5 linked regions of the Homo sapiens genome follow. The protein of the gene in region 1 interacts with the protein of each later gene in a pairwise test. Each region holds a gene or a part of one and is shown in the gene's direction. Other genes may lie near its edges.

The links.
Region 2: the proteins of NUPR1 (region 1) and ALDH1A1 interact in a two-hybrid assay, tested with the Homo sapiens proteins (one large-scale study listed by BioGRID and IntAct).
Region 3: the proteins of NUPR1 (region 1) and NPY5R interact in a two-hybrid assay, tested with the Homo sapiens proteins (one large-scale study listed by BioGRID and IntAct).
Region 4: the proteins of NUPR1 (region 1) and ABCG8 interact in a two-hybrid assay, tested with the Homo sapiens proteins (one large-scale study listed by BioGRID and IntAct).
Region 5: the proteins of NUPR1 (region 1) and STX18 interact in a two-hybrid assay, tested with the Homo sapiens proteins (2 studies listed by BioGRID and IntAct).

What each region holds. Positions count from the first base shown.
Region 1 is NC_000016.10:28,532,169-28,536,081, reverse strand, and holds the end of NUPR1 (nuclear protein 1), read left to right. Parts: 3' UTR 1-3,374; downstream 3,375-3,913. UniProt on the Homo sapiens protein: Transcription regulator that converts stress signals into a program of gene expression that empowers cells with resistance to the stress induced by a change in their microenvironment.
Region 2 is NC_000009.12:72,921,999-72,925,600, reverse strand, and holds part of ALDH1A1 (aldehyde dehydrogenase 1A1), read left to right. Parts: coding exon 1-117; intron 118-1,468; coding exon 1,469-1,582; intron 1,583-3,602. UniProt on the Homo sapiens protein: Cytosolic dehydrogenase that catalyzes the irreversible oxidation of a wide range of aldehydes to their corresponding carboxylic acid.
Region 3 is NC_000004.12:163,346,807-163,349,679, forward strand, and holds part of NPY5R (neuropeptide Y receptor type 5), read left to right. Parts: intron 1-430; exon of another isoform or gene 431-558; intron 559-645; 5' UTR 646-716; intron 717-2,491; exon of another isoform or gene 2,492-2,519; coding exon of another isoform or gene 2,520-2,531; intron 2,532-2,873. UniProt on the Homo sapiens protein: Receptor for neuropeptide Y and peptide YY. The activity of this receptor is mediated by G proteins that inhibit adenylate cyclase activity. Seems to be associated with food intake. Could be involved in feeding disorders.
Region 4 is NC_000002.12:43,845,401-43,849,002, forward strand, and holds part of ABCG8 (ATP-binding cassette sub-family G member 8), read left to right. Parts: intron 1-754; coding exon 755-911; intron 912-3,602. UniProt on the Homo sapiens protein: ABCG5 and ABCG8 form an obligate heterodimer that mediates Mg(2+)- and ATP-dependent sterol transport across the cell membrane.
Region 5 is NC_000004.12:4,433,973-4,437,574, reverse strand, and holds part of STX18 (syntaxin-18), read left to right. Parts: intron 1-2,716; coding exon 2,717-2,805; intron 2,806-3,602. UniProt on the Homo sapiens protein: Syntaxin that may be involved in targeting and fusion of Golgi-derived retrograde transport vesicles with the ER.

The sequences.
Region 1 (3,913 bases):
CGCCTGGCCAATTTTTGTATTTTTAGTAGAGATGGGGTTTCATCATGTTGGCCAGGCTGGTCTCAAACTCCTGGCCTCAAATGATCTGCCCACCTCAGCCTTCCAGCCTTTGGGAGGCCAAGGAGGGAGGATCGCTTGAGGCCAGGAGTTCGAGACCAGCCTAGGCAACATACCAAGGCCCTGTCTCTACAAAAATTTAAAAATTAGCAAAGCATGGTGGCTCATGCCTGTAGTCCTAGTTGCTCAGAGGCTGAAGTTGGAGGATCCCTTGAACCCAGTTGGAGGCTACAGTAAGCCATGATGGTGCCACTGCACTGCAGCCTGAGCAATAGAGTGAAACCATGTATTGAAAAAGAAAGAAAGAAAGAAAGAGAAAAAGAAGGAAGGAAGGAAAAGAAAGGAAGGAAGAAAGAAAAGAAAGAGAGAAAGGAGAGAAAAAGAAGAAAGAGAGAGAAAGAGAAGAAAGAAAGAAAGAAAGAAAGAAAGAAAGAAAGAAAGAAAGAAAGAAAGGAAGGAAGGAAAGAAAGAAAGAAAGAAGGAAAGAAAGAAAGAAAGAAAGAAAGAAAGAAAGAAAGAAAAGAGCGAGCCCCGGCACAGTGGCTCACACCTGTAATCCCAGCACTTTGGGAGGCCAAGGCAGGCGGATCACCTGAGGTCAGTAGTTCGAGTTCGAGGCAGAAGTTGTGGTGAGCCAAGATCACGCCATTGCACTCCAGCCTGGGCAACAAGAGCAAAACTCCATCTCAAAAAAAGAAAAAGAGAGAGAAAGAAAGAGAGAAGGAGGGAAAGAAAGAGGAAGGAAAGGAGGGAGGGAAGGAGGGAAGGAGGAAAGGAGGGAAGGAAATATTAAGGGATTTGCCCTAGCTCACTCAGGGCTCATATTCAGGGATCTTATTGTCTTCAGATATGAGGTGGGTCCCCAGGCCAAGGGGGCTGTGGGACAGGGTTCTGGGAAGTGAGATGGGGGAGGGAGATTCTTATTCAGTGCTATGTCTCAGGACCAGAGTTGAAGAAAAATATGGGGCAAACAGGAAGTGTGGTTGGAGCTGAGATTATTTGTTGATTGAGATACAGGTTTGGGTTGCTATTATGAAGAATCAAAACAGGATACAAAGTTACTCCTCTCTTACTTAGCCCCAAGTCCTCCTGGGTTCAAATGGCAGCTCCATTGTGTTGAGGATTCCAGCTATTTTTACTCACTGTTCTGCCACACCCAAAACATGGCTTCCACTTTGAGGCCCAAAATAGCTACTCCAATACCTGCCATCACGTTTGCATCTCAGCCTGTGGAAAGAGTGTGGAAGAGACAGAGGAGGCCACACCTCTTCAATTTTAGGGCATAATCTAAAAGTAGAACACATCACATCTGCTCCGAATGTGGCTACATGGCCACACCCAACTACGAGAGAGGTTGGGAAATGTAGCATTGAGCTGCTTAGCCACGTGGTAGCCAAAACTTGGGCAACAGCAGGGTTTTATGATGAAAGGGAACCAGAGAGAGTGAATACACGAAGAAGCTAGCAAGAAACATTGCCCACATGCAGACTCAACAGATGTCGGGGGAGAAAACTCTGAGATTGGGCCCCGGGCAGAGCCTGTTTCCTTTTCCCCTGTCCCTTTCACATAAGCCCCACACTGCAGAACTTGGAGTCAGTGGTTCATGGGGACCCAAGGACATCCACAGAAGACCGAAGTACCTGATAGAGCAGGAACAGATGCACGTCAGACTACGACCAGCTTGAACCCTTGGGGACCTGTATCCATCCCCTTCCCTTGAGTCCAGCCTAATCACAGCCACAGAATGAATCCATGACCCGGAAGGACATTTAAGGACCTCTGGCCCAACTCTCCCCACGCAACAGTGGGATTGCCTCTGCTTGTTTGAATACCACTATGGAGGGGGAACTTGCTACATTTAAAGGTTGCTGAATTTTTTTGTTTTGTTTTGGGAGATGGAGTCTCTCTCTGTCGCCCAGGCTGGAGTGCAGTGGTGTGATCTCGACCCACTGCAACCTCCGCTTCCTGGGTTCAAGCGATTTTCATGCCTCAGCCTCCCTAGTAGCTGGGACTACAGGTGTGGGCCACCACACCTGGCTAATTTTTGTATTTTTAGTAGAGACGGGGTTTCACCATGTTGCCCAGGCTGGTCTCAAACTCCCGACCTCAGGTGATCTGCCTGCCTTGGCCTCCCAAAGTGTTGGGATTACAGGCTTGAGCCACACCACCCGGCAAAGGTTGCCTAATTCTATCTCAGGGCAAGTCTGTTCATGTGGGCTGAAATCTGTCTCTCATACCTGCCCTTAAATAAGCTTCTGTTTTTCTGGTCCTTTCTGTCTGAGATGACTTTAATTCCTCCCCCGACCCCATCTCATGAGGCTCAGCTTAGATGTTTCCTTCTCTTCCTCCCTGATGGCTGCGTGCAGAAGCTCATACCTGCAATCCCAGCACTTTGGGAGGCCGAGGTGGGAGGATTGCTTGGGCCCAGGAGTTCTAGGCCAGCCTAGCAACACAGCAAGACCCTCTCTCTACAAAAAATTAAAAATTAGCCAGGTGTGGTGGCTTGTGCCTGTGGGCCCACCTACTCAGGAGGCTGAGGTGAGAGGATCTCTTGAGTCTGGGAGGTGGAGGCTGCAGTGAGCCATGATCTCACTCCAGCCTGGGCGTCAGAGTGAGACCTGTCTCAAAAAAACAAAAACCAAAGTTTTCCTTAACTTGCAATCCTCCACCCATCTCCTGACCTCCACCCCAGGCCGACCCTCCTCTGGGATCACACGGAAGCCTGGGCCCAGAATCTTACAGTCTACCTTGGAAATCCTTCAGATTTTGCCTCCAACTCCTCTTTCCATACAAGTTACATATTAACTCAATCAATGCTTATTGGATGCCTTCTGAGTTACCAGGATGCTGCTGGAGGCCTGTGCTGCTGAGAGGGACAAATAGAATCCTGATATGACTGGAACCAGGAATAGGGCCACCATCAGCTCTAGAACCCAGGGAGCAAATGGCAGGAGCAACACCAGGCAGTCGGCCCTCAGCCCAGCACAGACCTGGTGTGTTGGCTTCAGAAAATCCTGGAAACATCTCTGCTGTGTTTGGAGCTCCTATTCTGTGAGAAGTGTTTTATAGGCTTTGCTCCATTTAATCCTTACGATAACCCAATAGGACATACTATTAATGATCCCCTTTTTTTCAGACCGGAAAACTGAGGTTCGGAGACATTAAGTAATTTGCCTAAAGTCACACAGCCACATCCTGTAGGACTTGGAATTATGAACTCAGGTCTATCTGAATTTTAAAGCCTGGATTTTTCCCCCTTTGCTACATGCCTGGGAAGAACCATGTATTGACAATGAAGAATCCTAAACTCTCGTTAATTTCTGGTCAATTACTCCTCTGGGCCTGGGTTTCCTCACCTGTCAAATGGTGAGACTGGCCTCTCTTCTGTCAAAAGAGAAAATGAAGGCTGGGAAGCACTGTGTCCCTAGCTGGAATGGCCACTCCCTGTCCTGGGTCCTTTGACACCAGCCAGGAGTCCTCACACACTGCCCCTCCCTCCTGGCCTCTGATTGGCCTTTCCTGGCCTCGCCCTCGCCTGGCACAGCCTCTGCCTGAGAGGCCTTTAAGTGGCTGTTCTGGGAATTAAGGCAATTCTTGGAATTGCAGAATTTTTGGATCCGAAAGGATCCTACCCAGACTCTTCCTCTTCTGTCTCCATCCCCTTTCCTAAACCCTTTCTTTTTCTTCTGGTTGCATGTCTGTTTCCCCATTTTGGGGGGATCCCCCTGAGAACTAGAGAAATCACTGACCTCTGTCCTACCCCAGGGGCTTACAGAATTGGCCCTGTCAGGCTTCTGTAACTCAAAGGACTCCCGACTCCTTGCAGAGAACTGAGAAACTCACCATGGGGTTGTCT
Region 2 (3,602 bases), on another chromosome or scaffold:
TTGGTTATGCTCATTTGGAAGATAGGGCCTGCACTGAGCTGTGGAAACACAGTGGTTGTCAAACCAGCAGAGCAAACTCCTCTCACTGCTCTCCACGTGGCATCTTTAATAAAAGAGGTAAGTCTCCCGAAATCAAAATATGCTCAAGAACTCAAGAATCCTAAATTACAATAGGAAGACCTCATTTGTTGCTACTATAAAGTACATTATTTACAGATGGCTCCTGTCCAGTGGGGGGAATACATTTAGCATGACGGCTGGCTGCAATTTCTGGCAGTCACCCCAAATTCATCTCTGCCCAAATGCAGACAGGAAGCCAAACACAAAGGTTTGGTGTCAAACAGTCAACTTGGGATCACATTTTTGCTTCTTTGTCCAACTCTCATGAACATAAATTCATGTTGAAATTAATGTAGCATTCTTTCAAATGTTGAAACATTAAGTTGGTTTGTACCTGCCACTGATGGCCTAGTGTTTTCTGCAAAATTGTGTAAACTAATCTATGTAAGGTTGAAAGGGCCTCTATGCCAATATGCTTGTTTGTAATATTGGGCCACATTATTTCCAAACACTTTTCAATCTACTCATGAGTGGATATGTTTATATTCAGTTTTCTATTATGAGTTCCTCTGCATTTATCTTCCTGTTCAAAAACAGTAAAAGAACATGTAAAACATTTTCATCAGCTATCTAGATTGTGTTAATATACTTGCAAACAATTCATTGTCCTTTTTTCTTCATCTTACCAAATCTTAAAAAATAAATGTTAATCACTAGAAACTTAAAGTTACAAAACTGAACTTATCTTTTAAAGATATTATTTATTGAAATTAAAAACAGGGAAAAGAGATGTCAAAATGAAACATTTCGATGCAAATAACATGAAATTGTAATGTGCCCAACTCAGTTCCCATGCCTTCACCTGAATTCTTTAATGAAGATTGAAATCAACCTGTGATGTTGAATCATGAATGGGATGACAGTATTTACTTAACAATTTACTAAGTAATGCCAATGGGAATTTGCAACTCAGCAGTTATGCCCTCAACAATCAACAACAGCTAGGAACTAAAAAATGTTAGATCCCTTCAGCTTCTTATTTTTGCTGATGGGAATAATAAACATGTTACTTACTTTCTACATAAGTAACTTACCAAACACTTTTTTACATACAATCTTTTTGAGTTAGCATTATGAAATTTGAAAGAGCCATCACTGGAGCAATGATTCATAGAGTATGGACTTACCCTGACAAGAAATTGTCCTTTAATAATGCAACCCTTGAAGTTATTCTCTTATGTGTGCTTAGAAATGACATAATAAGACTAAAGAATAGAGCCAGTTGGGTGAATTATTTTTTTCTAGAGCATCTCATAAGGTTGGCATTAAGAGACAATCTCAATCCCCTACTCTCCTCCTTTTTGAATTAAATTCTTATACTGTAACTTTTAAACTTTTTATCTTTTAGGCAGGGTTTCCTCCTGGAGTAGTGAATATTGTTCCTGGTTATGGGCCTACAGCAGGGGCAGCCATTTCTTCTCACATGGATATAGACAAAGTAGCCTTCACAGGATCAACAGAGGTAATATTATTTACTCAGGGCAAAAGTTAAGAATGTCTGCATTGCCAGCTATGAAGTATGTTTTATGTAACTATTTTTGAGCCAACAATTTTAAAACAAAAACTCTTTTTAATGATTTGTTACTTATTTTAGCCTTCAAACATATGGATAGAATATAAGCAGATGTAGTTTGAATGACATGATGCACCTATTTTAAATCAGAATGAGAGTAAACTATTTTTAGTATGTTCATTACTTTCTCTGACGAGAAATATGGCTGCTGAGACCTTGTCATATTATTAGGAAGATTTATAATAGAAAATTAGGCCATAGTGATTTGTATGAATGAATATGATTTTATCCTATAGGTTATGAAAATTAAATAGTAGAGTCTCACCCTTTGCACCTTATTTGGGGTTGTCTTTCTCCTGGACACTGTGAAAGAGAGCCAGAAACTCAGCTTCCCTCAGTGGTACCTAGACTAACTTTTCTGCCTCTCTGGCTTGAACTTGACCATCCTAAAGGTTAAAGAAAAAGACCCCAACCACAAAGGAGAAGTGGCGGGCAGGAGGGAGAGCAGACTAGAAGGTGAAGTTTGGGAAAATAGATCCCCATTTATTGATGATGTTCTATCCTAAGCAAAAGAAAGTGGTGGAAGCATACTGTACCATGCAAAAAAAATTATTGAGTCATTCTATTAAATTACGTGACTTTGTTAGATGCTCAGTGCAAAAATGTTATTCATTGGTACACAGTATAGACAGTGAAGAGTGAGCTTCACTCCATCTTAGAAAGCTGCTGACAACAAGAGACCAGGCAGGGTGTGATAAGGTACTAAGGCATGTACAAAATGCTGTAAAAAAGGTTCACAAGAAGGAATGATGATGTCCAAATGGGTACTAGAACTAGCTCTGGGTTTTGAGGAATTGTTACTTTTTTAACTTCCTGGAAGTTGAGAAGCAAAAAAGACATTCCAGATAGTGTGGTGAGCATAATTTGATTATTTTATAATCTTAATTATTTACTCCAGAATAAAGGCAAATTTACATAGCAAAAAGAAATGGTGGAAAATCAAACTTTATTTTTCTTGGTCTTTTTAAAATGAAGTAAATAAATATATATATGTCTTCTTTGTTTTTCACAGACGTAGAGTAAAAAAAGTTTGCATTCTGCAACTCCCTAATTGAGATAGGGAAAAGCAAACCCCACAGTCAAGATTTATTGTAGACAGAACAAGTGGGAATGTTCAAGATATGGCAATACATTTAAAAATGGTGACACCACAGGTTGAAATCATACCAGAGGAATAAAGGTGAAAATTCCTCAGCCTAGAATTCTAGACCCTCCCCAATAGGGAATCCATGTGCCTGTTGAGGTCTGTCCAACCCATGGCCAGGGATGGCTTTGAATGTAGCCCGACACATTTTTTTTTCATTCTCATCAGCTATCTTTACTGTTAGTGTATTTTTTGTGTGGCCCAAGACAATTCTTCTTCCCATGTAGCCCAGGGAAGCCAAAAGATTGAACAACCCTGGTCTAGATCCTATGCCTACTCCTTCTCCAGGTCATCTGGACCAGGAGCTACTGTTTGCTGATCTCATCTTCAGCATCAGTTTGTCTTCGCTCATCCATGATCCCCTATAACATTGGGGGAGCACTTTACCTACTTAAAAAAATCCCTGGAGATTAAAAGTCTAGAAAATATCTTGGTTTAAATTCTGACTCTACCCCTCCTAGCAGTGTGTCTTTAAAAAGTTAAGTAGCCTTACTAAATTTGAGTTTCTTCATTTGTAAAATGGAGATGAGATCAAATTTACTGAGTTGTACAGAATACAATTAAATGAGCTAATGAGTAGTAAAACATTTATCACCCTACTGAGCGCTCAGTACATGCCATATTTCCTCTTTCCTCCCATACTTTTTAATTTCGCACACTAGTTTACACAATGTGAGAAAAAAGCTTCCTGTCCCAATATTTCTTTTTCTCCATCTCTGCCACTCTGCCCCATCTCTTCCTGATTATTCCATGTATCTTTTCATT
Region 3 (2,873 bases), on another chromosome or scaffold:
TTAAATGTTGTAAATATATCTTACAGTTTTAGTTGCATGTTGCTTGTGTGATAGCCTTTATCAATGAAGTTATCCAAATTTAAAGTGCTAAACTATCTTTATTGTCTGTCTAGGTATCTCCTCCTCATTGCATTTTGGGGCCATTTGAAACATCTATAATTTCAATGGTTCTCTATAAATGTATATATAAAGATACATATACACACATATATATGTACACACAAAAATATAGTCATACTCTATCCTGAATTTTCCCACATTGCCAGAATGATTCATTTCTGTTATTTTAAAGCAAGGGAAATTAAACTGCTTTTCTAAAACGATTGGTAAGAAATATTTACTTAGCATCCACTATGTGTAATATGCTTTATTAAACATCATTTCTAGAATGAAAATAATTAAGAGTTTTATCTCCATTCGAATATAATAGAGAGGTCTAACCACATGGAATGGAGAAAAATCTGAATTTTAGACTCAAAACTACATTGTTTCTATTACCACAAATTGTGCTGCATCTTCTCTTTCTTCAAAAAATTTTGGACAGCAATTTTACACTAAGTAAGTATCATCCACAGTTACATGTTCCAAAAAGGCACAAAGCCGTTGTAGAAGGGGCCATCTAATTTCTCTCTTGTTCTTGCTTAGGTGTTACAAGGAAAGGCTATCGGTAACAACTGACCTGCCACAAAGTTAGAAGAAAGGATTGATTCAAGAAAGTAAGTCAAGAGAAGAACAACTAAGCAGGATTGCAGTTACAAGCAGCCTGTACACAATTATAAATATAAATAGGATCATGAATAAGCTGAATTGAGCCAGGGGATCATCAGAACTCAGGAAATTAGGCAAAAGCACCAGTCAAAGCTGTTTTGATTAGAAGCTTGCTGACCTATCCAGAGTAGGTGCTGAGAGGCCATTGACTGGGAATATGATGAATAATATGATTCAGTAGGTCATGCGAGTCACTTTTGTACCAGGTGTTCTTTGTCATTGAGGCAATATCAATGTAAATTGTTGGCTAGGGTCTAAGAATGAATGAATACAATCCTAAGTCTTTGAATTAACTTATCCTTTAAAAGGATGTAGTTAGCTTCCAGAAAATAATTTGGTCAACATAGAATCACTTGTAGAAGTTGTGAAAAACTTGTAACTTTTCTCATAGCACAATGATGACTCTGTCATCCTGTTTGAAACTTGCTACACATAGAACTGAAGTTAAACTTATTTGTAATGAATGTATGTACACAATAGTATTTGCCATTTGGAAATTTATTGAACGAAGACCTGCAGGTCCCTCATAAATTAAAGATAACAGTGTTTACTATTAATTTAAATAAACATGTATTTTTATAGTTTTAGTATAATTATTCAATTATAGATCTAGAAATAAGTAGATAAACATATATTGATAGGTAACAAAAGTGGTTTTTTAACTATATATATCACAATCTCTACGACAATGTATTTATTGGAATTAATTTCTTTGTTGGTTTGTGTTTTCTGTAGGAAATTCTTGTTAAAAGAACATTAAAGTGGCTGGGCACAGTGGTTCATGCCTCTCATGCCTATAATCCCAACAGTTTGGGAGGCCAAGGTGGGAGGTTTACTTGAGGCCAGGAGTTTGAGACCAGCCTGGGCAACATAGCCAGGCCCCATCTCCACAAAAAATAGAAAGATTAGCCAGATGTAGTGGCACGTGCCTGTAGTCCCACGTGCCTGTAGTCCCAGCTGCTTGGGAGGCTGAGATGAGAGGATTGCTTGAGTCCAGGCGTTCAAGGTTACAATGAGCTGTGGTCACACTACTGCACCCCAGCCTGGGCAACAGAATGAGACCCTTTTTCTAAGAAAAATAAAAAGGTAAAAAAAAAAAAAAGTCCTTTTTTTTTTAAACGAGAGGAGGGAGTCCTTTTGCCTCTTATTGGTATGTTATAGGCAATTTAGTGCTTCATCAGGCAGTAGCATCAAAAGTCTAATATGTAGAGGTAAATACGTAATGCCATTGATGTATGACATTAATTTAATTTGAAATGAAGAAAACTTATTACCGGGAGTTATATTAATATCACTGCTACATTTACGTTTAAGGTATAATGTTTTCCTTGAACAATGAATTCATTGACTCGTTCATAAGCCAAAATCTATACACAGTTTTTAAATTAATCAACAGGTGAAATTTGATTGTTTGTTTTTTTAAAACGCCAACAGCCTGCTAGTCTGTCAGTGGTTGTCCTAATCAGAGATAATCTGGCACATCTCAAACCATTGAGGATTGGTCACAGAAAGATGTCATCATCCAGCATTGCGTCCACACAGTCAACAGTAGAGTTTGATAAATATATTTAATGAGTGCCTACTATATGCATCTGGGTCATGAGATAGTGATCCTATTCTCAAGGAGCATAAATTTGAACATTGTACGAACTAGGTGATATTTGTTACTAGAGTTTTGTTTGAACGTTTTATTCTCTCATAAACATTTATTTAATACCTGCAGTGATGAAGTTACTCTGCCATGTATTGGGATGGATTCCAAAGTGAGTAAGAGATAGTTTCTGCTTTTCCATTGCTTGTAAATAAACAAGGTAGATGGGTAGGCATTATAATGCAATGAAAGCAGATTATGATATGTAGCATCAGACAACTGTAAACAGAATGTAACAGGAGTTCTGAAGAGGAGATCATGTCCAGCCGAGTTGACCAGGACAAGTGACTTTTAAGTTTGGCCTAGATTGAGATAGAAATAAATGGAATTTTTATGATAAGATTATGTGACTATACTACATACCAGGTATATTGACTTGGAGAATAATATTAATGAGTGATTGCAAAGCATGTATCTTGAAGTTCTTGTCTACATTTGCCTTTTTCTTTCCTTA
Region 4 (3,602 bases), on another chromosome or scaffold:
CTGCCCTGAGCCTCATCTGTAAAACAAGGATTCTGAGCATATCTATGTTATAGATTTGCAGTGAGGATTGAATAAGGTGATGGATGTTAAGTGATTAACACAATGTCTTGCACATAGTAAACATCTGATAAATTATTAGTAAATTACTAGTATCAAGTGAAGACATTTTGCTTCGTGTTTTATTTTTATTTCTGTACCACTATTGCACATGATTTTCTTTTTTCCTTACTTTTTTTTTTGAGATGGAGTCTCATTCTGTCACCCAGGCTGGGATGCAGTGGTGCAATCTTGGCTGACTGCAATCTCTGCCTCCCAAATTCAAGTGATTCTCCTGCCTCAGCCTCCCAAGTAGCTGGGATTACAGGCAACCACCACCATGCCTGGCTAATTTTTGTATTTTTAGTAGAGGCGGGGTTTTACCATGTTGGCCAGGCTGGTCTCAAACTCCTGACCTCAGGTGATCCACCTGCCTCAGCCTTCCAAAGTGCTGAGATTACAGGCATGAGCCACCATGCCTGGCCTGTACATGCTTTTCATTCTTCTTATCTTCAGACCTAGAAACAGCAGCTACAGGTTCTCAGCATGGGTCCTGCTTCCGTGTTTGGTAGAACCTGGGTTGGGGCCTATTGTGTGTAGGTGAGGACATATCCTCTGTGGAGAGGGGCCACCTGGGGAACGAAGATGCTGAACAGAAGTTGCTGAAGCCCTCTGAACCATTCAGCTCTCTAAGGAACCTTCTGATATCTCCCCACAGGTGGACCTGGCCTCTCAGGTCCCTTGGTTTGAGCAGCTGGCTCAGTTCAAGATGCCCTGGACATCTCCCAGCTGCCAGAATTCTTGTGAGCTGGGCATCCAGAACCTAAGCTTCAAAGTGAGAAGTGGGCAGATGCTGGCCATCATAGGGAGCTCAGGTACCGGAAAGGCAAATCGCTGGGCAATGGTTTCTCTCCTGGGATACAGAATGGTCCTTTGGACAAATGGATGCTTCTTATGGAGCTCTTTGCTGACTAGTAGAATAATACAGCAGAATGGCTGAGAACACAGGTTCTGGGTCAGACAGACCTGGGCTCAAATCCTGGCTCCTCCATTTGCTGGCTTGAGGGTAGGTGCTGTTGTTAAGAGTCATGAGTGCGCCTCTTGTCCACCCGAGGCTGTGGCCAGAGCATCTGACTTTGGCTAACACCTGGACGGAGAGATCAGCAAACAGCTCCAGCATGTAATGTTCTTTTCAGACTCCTCCAGCCATGAGGGGCATTGGTTCAGGTTGTTCCTCCACAATCACATTCTGATTATGGCCAGACAGCCCCTGCCACACTCTCACCTCTCAGACAGCCTCTCCAGTGTCTTACTTAGCACAACTTTCACTCATCTGCAAAGAGCCAGGTTCTTGGAGTGCCTCAAATTGTCATTTCCATGGCCAAATTTAAAATGAGAGAATGTCTGAGCTGAAAGGGGGCTTGGGGAACAGAGGTCATTCTCATCATGTTCCACCTTTCTTTCTCCCTACCAGTTTGGAAGCATTTTCAGAGGAAGGTGTTCAAACTCCCTACTCCTCAGTGTGTCTAGAGTATCCTCCTGCACGCGCGCGTGCACACACACACACACACACACACACACACACACACTCCCCTCCATTTGACAGATGAGGAGACTCAAATCCAAAGAAATTGAGGGATTCTCGTAAGGACACATATTTAATGCAGAGCTAGAACTAGAACTTTGGTTTCATCATTCTCGGATCAAGACATTTCTCCCTGGGACACCCTTACATAGTGCTGGAGAGAGCATTTTATATCTTTTAATTAATCATTTCCAGAGGTAGAGATTACTCAATTTTTTAAACATTCTGCTCCAAACTTTTACACCCGTCTGGTAGATAAGTTCTGTTTACCGTATAACCAAAGATCAAATGAAATCTTATGTATAAATGCACTTTGTAACTGAAACAGCATCACAGTCATGAAGTCCCTCTCACTCTGTCCCTGTCCCTGCAATCCTGACCTAAATAAGAAAAAAGTAGATCCCGGCCAGGCACAGTGGCTCATACCTGTAATCCTAGCACTTTGGGAGGCCGAGGCGGGCAGATCACGAGGTCAGGAGATCGAGACCGTCCTGGCTATCACGGTGAAACCCCGTCTCTACTAAAAATACAAAAAATTAGCTGGGTGTCGTGGTGGGTGCCTGTAGTCCCAGCTACTTGGGAGGTTGAGGCAGGAGAATGGCGTGAACCTGGGAGGTGGAGCTTGCAGTGAGTCGAGATCGCGCCACTGCACTCCAGCCTGGGCAACAGAGCACGATCCCGTCTCTTAGAAAGGAATGAATAAATTACACTGAATAGTCTCCTGTTTTGTTTTTTTTGTTGTTGTTGTTTTGTTTTTTTGAGGCAGTCTCTCTCTGTTGCCTAGGCTGGATTGCAGTGGTGTGATCTCGGCTCACTGCAACCCGCTCCTCCTGGGTTCAAGCGAGTCTCATGTCTCAGCCTCCCAAGTAGCTGGGATTACAGGTGGGTGCCACTATGCCTGGCTCATTTTTTTTTGTATTTTTTGTAGAGATATGGTTTTGCCATGGTGGCCAGGCTGATCTCCAACTCCTGGCCTCAGGTGATCTGCTTGCCTTGGCCTCTCAAAGTGCTGGGATTACAGGCATGAGTCACTGCACCGAGCATCTCCTGGTTGTTTATAGATTCAGTGTTGTTTGGCTTCAGGTTTACTTGCCTGTGTAAAAAAAACAAAAACAAAAAACAAAACAACAACAAACAACTTTAGACAAATAAATAGTAGAGTTGTCTGAGCAAATAGTGATTAATGAATCTGGCAGCACTCAAAAACAGGACCAGTTCAGAGGCTCCCCCAAGCAATTTGGTCAGGCAGTATTTATAGACAGAAAAAGGAAGTGCCCTACAGAAATAGCTGATTGGTTACAGTTGGGTGTTCACCTTATTTATTTGAGGGTGATGTGATCAGGTGTTGGGTATGGACAGGAGCTCATCAGTCGGTAGCCTGTGATTGGCTGATGCTTGGCTGCCATGATTGGCTGAGACTCAGCAACTTGTCTCAGCCAGTCTCTGTCTTAAGAGAATATACTGCTAAGATAAGTTGCAGTTTGTTTACATACTAAGTTTGCTTGCAGTTTGCTCTGTGGGAACTCAAAGTATGCAGGCAGCCTCAGGCCAAATTTAGTTTAACTGAGCAGCTGAAATTATTAAAATGATTTATTAGAAAGGTTCATCAACTACACTTCCTGTGACTTTTACTGCCATCCCCCTCTCCCCCTGCCCAACATACACACAAAAGAACGCTGGCCATAATTTTTAAAATACAAAGAAAACAGCCAGGCTGGGCACGGTGGCTCATGCCTGTAATCCCAGCACTTTGGGAGGCTGAGGCAAGTGGATCACCTGAGGTCAGGAGTTCGAGACCAGCCTGGCCAACATGGTGAAACCCTGTCTCTACTAAAAAAAAAATACAAAAAATTAGCTGGGCGTGGTGGCACGTGCCTGTAATCCCAGCTACTTGGGAGGCTGATGTGGGAGAATCGCTTGAACCCTGGAGGTGGAGGTTGCAGTGAGCTGAGATTGCACCATTGCACTCCAGCCTGGGCAG
Region 5 (3,602 bases), on another chromosome or scaffold:
AGTATCTCTTATCTGAAATGCTTGGGACCAGAAGTGTTTTGGATTTAGGGTTTTTTCAAATTTTTGCATATTTGCATTGTCCTTACCAGTTGAGCATCTCTAATCTGAAAACTAAAATCTGGAAAGCTCCAATGAGTATTTCCTTTGGGTGTCACATTGGAGCTCAATAAGTTTCAGGGATGTGATTCCTGCCCTCAGGGAGCTCACAGTTGATGGGAAAGATAAGGCTCTAGCCCCTGGGAGAAAGTAAGTAGTACCTCAAGAGAGAGCAGAGGGCCAGGGAGACTTCAAGAGGAGGTGGCACTAAGAAGTGAGTCTGGGCCAGGCGCAGTGGTTCACACCTGTAATCCCAGCACTTTGGGAGGCCAAGGCGGGTTGGATCACCTGAGGTCAGGACATCAAGACCAGCCTAACATGGAAAAACCCCATCTCTACTAAAAATACAAAATTAGCCAGGTGTGGTGGCACACGCCTGTAATCCCAGCTACTGGGGAGGCTGAGGCAGGAGAATCACTTGAACCTGGGAGGCGGAAGTTGCAGTGAGCCAAGATCGTGCCATTGCACTCCAGCCTGGGCAACAAGAGCGAAATTCCGTCTCAAAAAAAAAAAAAAAAAAAAAAAAAAGTGAGTCTGGACCTGAAAAAATAAAAAATGAAAGCTTAGAAAGTTCTAGACAGAGGCAGCAGCATGAGCAAATGCTCAGAGGCCAGAAAGCCTGGAGATTGGGTGGGATATAGTCAGTAAAGAAGACCCGTGGGGATCAGTGAAGCCCATCAGTGGGAGGAGAGGTGGGAGTAAGCTTGGAAGGGTGGGTAGGGCCTTGAATGCCAGAGTAGGGAGTCTGGACTTGCCTCTGTGGCACCAGGGTGCACGGGTGGCCTGGGCAGAGGACTGGCATGGTGGGTGCTGTGCTTCAGGCTGATCCTTAGGGCAGCCTATCAAGAAGGCTTCTGATGGCCACAAATGAGCATGTTGTAGAGTGTGAGTTCTGCTAAGAAAACTTTCCCATTCTAGCTCAGAGTTAATTTATGCTTGGTTCAGATATGAACAAGGTTTCTGTTTCTAATTTTGATGTTTTTTTCCTTAAAAAAGAAATCAACAACAGTAAAAGCTTGAAATGGATACCATAATGAGGACAAGTAGGAGACAGCTCATAAGGTGGGGGTGGGGGGTAGATGAAAGTACAAATGTTCCTACCCAAAGAATGTCATCTCAGGAAAATATCAGATCATTTCTAAAGATACTTTTAGCCAACCTTTTACAAACACATGTTTTTCTATAATGACACTTCTGGTAAAAACAGCCATTTTTCTAAAAGCCTGCATGCACTAAGTTGTGGATGACATGCAGTTTTTTTTGTAAAGATATATTTCTAATAAATAACCATAACTTTCAGGCATGGCCTGCCTAGTGAGCTTTCTCTACATTGTTGCTATCATTACGTTCTCTTCCCCTATTTAAAGATCTGGACTTGTTGCCATCTCATGGGGCTGAGACTGACTACAGGAAATTTACTGAGATTGAGGAAAAAAGGAAAAAGAAGCAGTATTTGCCTTTGAGTACTTGGAAGCTCACTGATAAGCCCTGAGACACAGACACAAAGTGACTTCATTACAGTCTCCCCCGAGGATCCATCCCTGCCATCCCTCTCCCCTCCGCTCCCAACCCTACCCCGGTGATGAACTGCACAGACCTCTTACCGTCATCCTGGGCGGCAGCAGTCCTTTCTAGGGGCCTGTGGTATTGACATGCTTCAATGGAGGATGCATCACCTTTCCTTGATCATAATGAAAAAGTTCTCCAGATTAAAATGTTCCTACGCTCCCTTTCAGCAGTTGCATGCCCAGGTATCTGTCCTAGAGAGTCACTCCAGCATGTGCACATAGCACAGACCGGGACACAGTACCATGACACCAGTGAACAGTCTGAAACCACTGAGGTCTGTCAGCGTAGTTATGGCTAAAGACCAGTGTATCCTCACGATGGAATATCATGCAGCAATTTAAAAGAACAAGGTAGATCTACTTGGACCATCTCCAAGATGTATCAATAAATCATACAAAGCAAGTTTTAGAACAGCATGTTACTATTGATATCTGTGTGAAAAGCAAGCCGCCATACACACAAAACTGTGTATTACTTGAATTTCATGGGTAGACAGGGACTCATATATCTTTGTATGTGAATATCTTTAGATAAAATCTATGAAGCTACATCAAAGCAGTAACATCTGGGAGAGGAATAGGATTGGAGAACAGTATATCACTTCCTGTATATATATATATATGTATGTATATATGCATATGTATTTTTTACAATAAAAATATGTCTTACAGTCTTTAAAAGTAGACAGGGGTGTATGTGTCTTGAAGTAAAACATACTTTAAGACTCATTCTGAAGAATTCTGAAGACATTCTGAATAATGTCCATTTAGTTTGCAGCCATTGCTGACATCAGTGCGATACTGAAACCGTGCATAGGTCCCCCTCCCCATCACACACACACATGCACGTGCCTGCACAAAGACAATTTAAAGCCTAAATGTTGTGAAAGAATCATGTCTGCAGTGCCTGAATATTAGCCCAAAGATCATGAAATATATAGACAAAGCTGTAAGATTCTGTTTAATCTCTTGTTTGTGTTATGACTACATCCTAAGCCAGCCTATTCTAAAACACATATTTGGTCTTCTATTTTCAATTTTTTTTTTAACAGAAAAAATTTTGGCTGAAACACAACCTGAATTGGGAACGTGGGGAGATGGCAAAGGCGAAGATGAGTTATCCCCAGAAGAAATACAAATGGTAATGCTATTCTCTGCCTAATTATTTATTTTTAACTGGTTTTCATAAGACTGTTTCACTAAGGAGAAACTCATCCTCAATGCCCTTGCCCTTATTTTTATACTGAGTTTTAAAAATTATAAATGTGTATTTTATATACACTTTCCCATTTGATTTCCTAATTCTTACGGTGCTTTTCATATGCTTTAAATTTGCAGTAGCATAATTAAAGAAGACATTTTGCCTTGGAAGAATTTTACTAATAATAGATGTCTTTTCAACAACAGTAAAATAGTCTTCTAGACTAAATGGGTCTTTTATAAATGCCACTATGATGCTTTTTAATTGTTTGAATTGCTAGTGCTATGGTAATGTGAAAAAAGTAAGATAATGACTGAAAAGTGAAAAGAGTAACACCTTAACTACTGATAGCACCTCCTTTTAGTTACCTGCCTTCTGGTTTCCAGCTGCTATAGCTTACCATCTATGGGTGGGTTTCAAAAGGAACTGATAGGTCTGCCAAGCCCCTGCCAGCTCACGTCCAGCAATGTCTGTGTGCAGCTCATCTGGACACTGGTGTGACAGAAGCCAGATGGAATATGCTATCTGTGTGTGGGAATAGATGTCACCTAGAGCTGCTAGGATGTGACACTGTCCTCTAAGACGTGGGGAATGTGACTACCACACGGCACGCCTCCAGTGACTGTGCCTGGCAAGTGATAGCATTTTAAGTGTGCAGCAGTTTGCAGTAGACAAAACTTTTTGATTCTCATTTTATCCATGATACTTTTAATAATTGCACAAAGAGGTGGTGGAAC